Linked DNA regions of Homo sapiens: region 2 is linked to region 1. A link means that fine-mapping ties the variant in region 1 to the expression of a gene that starts in the linked region. Tissue or cell type: whole blood. Region 1 holds a variant in brackets; the other region holds the start of a gene. All regions are shown on one strand. Distances are between the middles of the regions.

What was found. PIP is the estimated chance that this variant, and not a neighbour inherited with it, causes the effect.
Region 2: it holds the start of CASP2, and the variant in region 1 is fine-mapped to the expression of CASP2 in whole blood (TOPMed, PIP above 0.99).

What each region holds. Positions count from the first base shown.
Region 1 is chr7:143,249,554-143,252,313 of GRCh38, forward strand. All of the region lies in intron 2 of LOC105375546 (a long non-coding RNA gene), which reads left to right. Among named protein-coding and RNA genes, the nearest start is that of GSTK1, 13 kb to the right of the region's middle. The variant A/G (reference allele first, on the strand shown) is at 1,513.
Region 2 is chr7:143,287,066-143,289,565 of GRCh38, forward strand. CASP2 (caspase 2) reads left to right here and starts at 1,286. Exons shown (of 11, transcript NM_032982.4): 1 at 1,286-1,464. The coding sequence starts at 1,391. It overlaps TMEM139 (transmembrane protein 139), which reads left to right. Exons shown (of 3, transcript NM_001282876.2): 3 at 1-983. RefSeq lists a silencer at 913-1,662.

The sequences.
Region 1 (2,760 bases):
AGACCCTAGATGACTGATAAAAACTTCAGAAAAAAATCCTCTTCAAGAAGCTCAGGGAACTACAAGAAAACATGAATAGAAAATTAAATAAAATTTAAAATACAATGCACAAACAAAACAAAAAGTTTGGCAAAGAAATAAAAACAATAAAAATAGAAATTTTAGAGAAAAAGAATATAATAAATGAGCTGAAAAATTCAATAAAACTCTTCAATGGCAGACTCAATCAAGCAGAAGAAGGAATCAGTGAGGTTGAAGATGGTACATTTGAAATTACTCAGGGAAGAAAGAAAAGAGAATAAAATGAAGACAGAAAGCCTATGGGAATTATAGGATATCATCAAGATAACTAAATTTACATAATAAAAGTGGCACTGGGAGGATCGCTTGAGGCAAGGAGTTCAAAACCAGCCTGGGCAACACAGCAAGATCTCCATCTCTACAAAAATAAAATTAGCCAGGCATGGTGGCACACATCTGTAGTCCCAGCTATTCCAGAAGCTGAGCTTGAGCCAAGGTGTTCGAGGTTATGGTGAGCTACGATCATGTCACTGCACTCCAGCCTGGATAACAGAGAGAGATCTTGCCTCAAATAAATAAATAAGTAAAAATAGAAGTGGCAGAAAGTGGAGAAAGAGAGAAAGTGCCAGAAAGCACTTTTTAAAAAATGGTTGAAAACTTCCCAAATCTAGGGAAAGATGTCAATACCCAGGTACAGGGAGCTCAGAGGTCTCCAACAAAATTCAACTCAAAGAGGTGTTCAACAAGACATATCATAATCAAACTGTCAAAATTAAAGACAGAAAGAACTCTGAAAGCAGAAAGAGATAAGGAAATATCACATCTTAAGGAATCTCAATGTGACTAGCAGTGGATGTCTCAGCAAAAACCCTGCAGATAAGGACAGAGTGGGATAATATACTCAAAGTGCTGAAGGAAAACAGTGCCAAACAAGAATATATCCAGAAGAAGTCCCTCTGAAATAAGGAAGAATAAAAACTTCACCAGACAAACAAAATTTAAGGGTGTTCATCATTACTAGTCCTGCCTAGTAATCATGCAGGAATTGCTAAAAAAGAGTTCTTTAAGCTGAAATAAAAGGTATTTAATTAATAACAAAGCATATGAAAATATAAAACTCAATGGGCATATTCAGGATAATCTACTACTCTAATGGTGGTGTATAAAGCAATTTTATCTCTACTATGAGGGTTAAAAGATAAAAGTATTAAAAACAACTATAGCTGCAATAAATCGTTAAGGGATACAAATTACAGAAAGACGTAAAATTTTATATCAATATTATAAGAGGTGGTTGGGGTAAAAGTGTAGAATTTTTGTATGTGAATAGAGTTAAGTTGTTATCTGTTTAAAATAGCCTATTATAAGTATAAGATGTTTCATGTAAGCCTCATGGTAACTACAAAGCAAAAACAAAAACCTATAGTAGTTGCACAAAACATAAAAAGAAATAATTTGAAGCATATCACTACAGGAAACCACCAAACCACA[A/G]AAAAAAATAGCAAGGCATGAAAAAAGAAAAATGACAAAAGAAAACAAGTTACAACATAGCAGTAGGAAGTCCACACCTATTAAATAATTACCTTAAATAAAAATGAATTAAATTATCCAATCAAAAGAAAGTAACTGAGTGGATTTAAAAAAAAATGTAGCCTACAAGAGGCTCACATTATTAGTAAAAACACACAAAGACTGAAAGCAAAGGGATGAAAAAAGATATTCCATGCAAATGGAAGCCAAAAGAGAGCAGTAGTAGCTATACTGATAGCAGACCTAATAGACTAAGTCAAAAACTGTAAAAAAAAAAAAAAAAAAAAAAAGACAAAGAAGGTCATTATACAATAATAGGGGGTTCAATTCATGAAGAGGACAAAACAAGTGTAAATACATATGCTCCCAACATTAGAACATCTAAATATAAAAAGCAACTATTAAATGATCTGAATGCAGGCTGGGTGTGGTGGCTCACGTCTATAATTCCAACACTTTGGGAGGCTGAGGCAGGAGGATTCCTTGAGCCCAGGAGTTTGAAACTAGCCTGGACAACATAGTGAGACCTCATCTCTACAAAACATAAACAAAATTAGCCAGGCATGGCAGTGCACATCTGTAGGCCCAGCTACTCAGGAGGTGGGAAGATCATTTGAGCCCAGAAGGTCGAGGCTGCAGTGAGCCAAGATCACACCATTGCACTCCAGCCTGGGTGACAAAACAAGACGCTATCTCAAATAAATAAATAAATAATCTGAAGGGAAAGATAGACTGCAATATAATAATAGTAGGAAACTTCAACACTCCATTTTGAACAATGGACAGATCATCTAGACAGAAAATCAGTAAGATAACATTGGCTTTGAATTACAAGTTAGGCTAAATGGAACTAATGCACATATACAAAACATTTCATCCAACAGCAACAAAATATACATTCTTCTCAAGTGCACACAGAACATTATCTAAGATGGCTCTAAATGTTAGGCCACTGATATGGTTTGGGTCTGTGTCCCTGCCCAAATCTCATGTCAAATTGTAATAATCCCCAGTGTCGGAGGTGGGGTCTGGTGGGAGGTGATTGGATCACGGTGGTGGATTTCCCCCTGGAGCTGTTCTTGTGGTAGTGAGTTATCATGAGATCTGGTTGTTTAGAAGTGTTTAGTACCTCCCCCTTCTCTCTTCCTCCTGCTCTAGCCACATAAGATGTGCCTGCTTCCCCTTCACCTTCTGCCATGATTTTAAGTT
Region 2 (2,500 bases), 37 kb after region 1:
TAGATTGAGGATGAGGTAGGGAGGTGATCCAGAGAAGGCGGAGAAGGAAGAAGTAACCTCTGAGTGGCGGCTATTGCTTCTGTTCCAGGTGCTGTTCGAGCTGTTAGAACCCTTAGGCTTGACAGCTTTGTGAGTTATTATTGAAAAATGAGGATTCCAAGAGTCAGAGGAGTTTGATAATGTGCACGAGGGCACACTGCTAGTAAATAACATTAAAATAACTGGAATGAACTCCTGATCCCAAAGCCTATTGTGTTTTCAACACAAGGTAATAGGAAGCCAAGCAACTTGCATGTCTCCCAATCCCTGTCTAGGGACAGCTGCTGGTGCAGGATGGAAGACTTCCTATAAACAGAATGGGCGACCAATTGTGTCTACAGAGGGGGTGGGCTGAGCATGGGCACGCATGTCCCCAGCCTCCTGGACGAGCAAAGTCAGTCAAAGCGCTGGTGATCCCTGCTCCGCGTGCGTAGCAGTGTCTGTGCCTCTCCTGCCCAGGGGCTAGAGAGCAGTCTCCAGTGCAGGGTCCCCATCCTATCTGAAAACAGTGGAGTCAGTGACCCCAGGTGGAGGGACTTCCAGTTTTAACAATGGGTTGGTATGAAGGCCAGAAGGAGTGAAACATGTGAACTTTCTGGCGAGGAGACTCCCTCTTGAATCATCCATATGTAGCCCCGGGGTCACTTGCGAAGAGTCTCTAACAGCTTCTGCCTCACTCCTAAGCTCTGACCGCTAGGCTTTCACCCCAGCCGCCGGTCCTGATTCCTGAGATCCCAATATTGAGCACCAGGTTTCCTGGAATTGTGTGCTGCGGCTGTGATGTAGGTTTCGGTCGCTGGAAGCTGCTAAACCATAGCTGACGCCCCCTCCTAAGCCAGCCTTCCTTCCCCGCGCGGGCATCTGTCCAGGGCCTTGTCGCGCTCTCAGTCTCCTTCGCAGCCTGGCCCCAACCGTTCAACTTCAATAAAGCAAAACTCCAGCCACGCCCGTCTCCGTGAAGTTATCGCCATAGGCCGGCCAGGGGGCGCGAGAGGCACCGGGGTGATTTCCGCGGGAATCGATAACCAATCGGATTCCCAGGCCGAACGGAGCACACCCGCCCGCCCTCGCTCTTTCCCCGCCCTTTGCCCCGCCCCGCTCCTTCCCCTCCTTTTGTCTGTCCGCCGAGCACCCCACTTCACCCCATTGGACCGCGCGGCCGCCGCTAGAGCTCTGCGCCTGCGCACGCACCGGGCCGGGGACTGGGTGGCCTGGTGTGTGGGCGCGGCAGGGCGCAGGCGCAGGCGCAGTGTGCGTCCGCGTCTGAGGGGAGGGATGTGGGGGAAGCGACGGCCCCCGGTTTGTTTGGGCTGTGGGCGGTGCGCAGCGGAGAGCCCGGGAAAAGCGGGAAATGGCGGCGCCGAGCGCGGGGTCTTGGTCCACCTTCCAGCACAAGGAGCTGATGGCCGCTGACAGGGGACGCAGGTAAGTAGGGAACGGTCTTAGGGCTCCTTAGGGGAGCCCAGGGAAGGGGAGCGTGGCCCCCAGGCGTGCGGCCCTGCAGCCCCCTCCCCTCGGAGCCCCGGAAAGCAGCCGTGTCCGCGCTTCCTGCCAAGGGTGGGACGCCCGCCCGAGCCGCTCCGAGCCTGACTCCGCGCAAGGGCCCGCGGGCGGACCTCTTGGCCTTGTCTCTCGTGGGAAAAGACTGCCCCAGCCTCCCTTTGTTCAACCCACGAGGGTTCTAAAGGGGAGGTCTTTGCAGTCCTGCCCGCTCTTGGGTTCTCTTGAAGATTCTTCATCCTTTCCTCTGGCTCCCTTATGAGGGAAACTATAAAAAGACCATACTCTGTCTCCTTAAAAATCGACGAGACCTTCTGCAGACCTCGGTGCTCTGCCTGATGTGCATTTGATTTGTATCGATTGTATCATGATCTGCATGGCTTTGCATAGAATGACCAGATTTTCAAAGAAGTCAATACAGGGTTTGGAAATTGAGTACTTTTGGCAGAACAAGGGGGTTCCTGTGGCTCCGAGTGTCCATGCCTCTGCCCCGGTCATTCCATTTCATGGCAGTCATCACCCAGGAGAACATTGTAATGCCTCCTGCTCGAGACTGAAGATTAAGGTCTTCGCAAAGGGAACCTGCAGAAGGACACAGAATTAAGACGTAGGAACTCCGTGGTGCCCTTCGCCCCTCCTCCCCTTCCAGTTGTGTCCTGAAATTCTAAATGATTGGAAACTTTTATAATGTTCACGTTTAAGACTCTCATACTACAGAGTAGAGGAAGGAGCGGGTGTGCAGAGGGGGTGATGCTTCAGATTAAAACTAAAGAGTTGATTGAAAATTCAAGTCTGGAACTCGAGAGAGTTAAGAACTATAAGTCAGTAAGTTGCAAGTATGGGTGAGATTGTCTAGGGAAAGGCTCTTTGAAGGGGCGTCCCTAATGGAATATCAATATTAAGGGCAGGCCAAAGGCCCTCTAAAGAAAACAGGAACTGGGTAGGCAGAGAGAAGACTCCC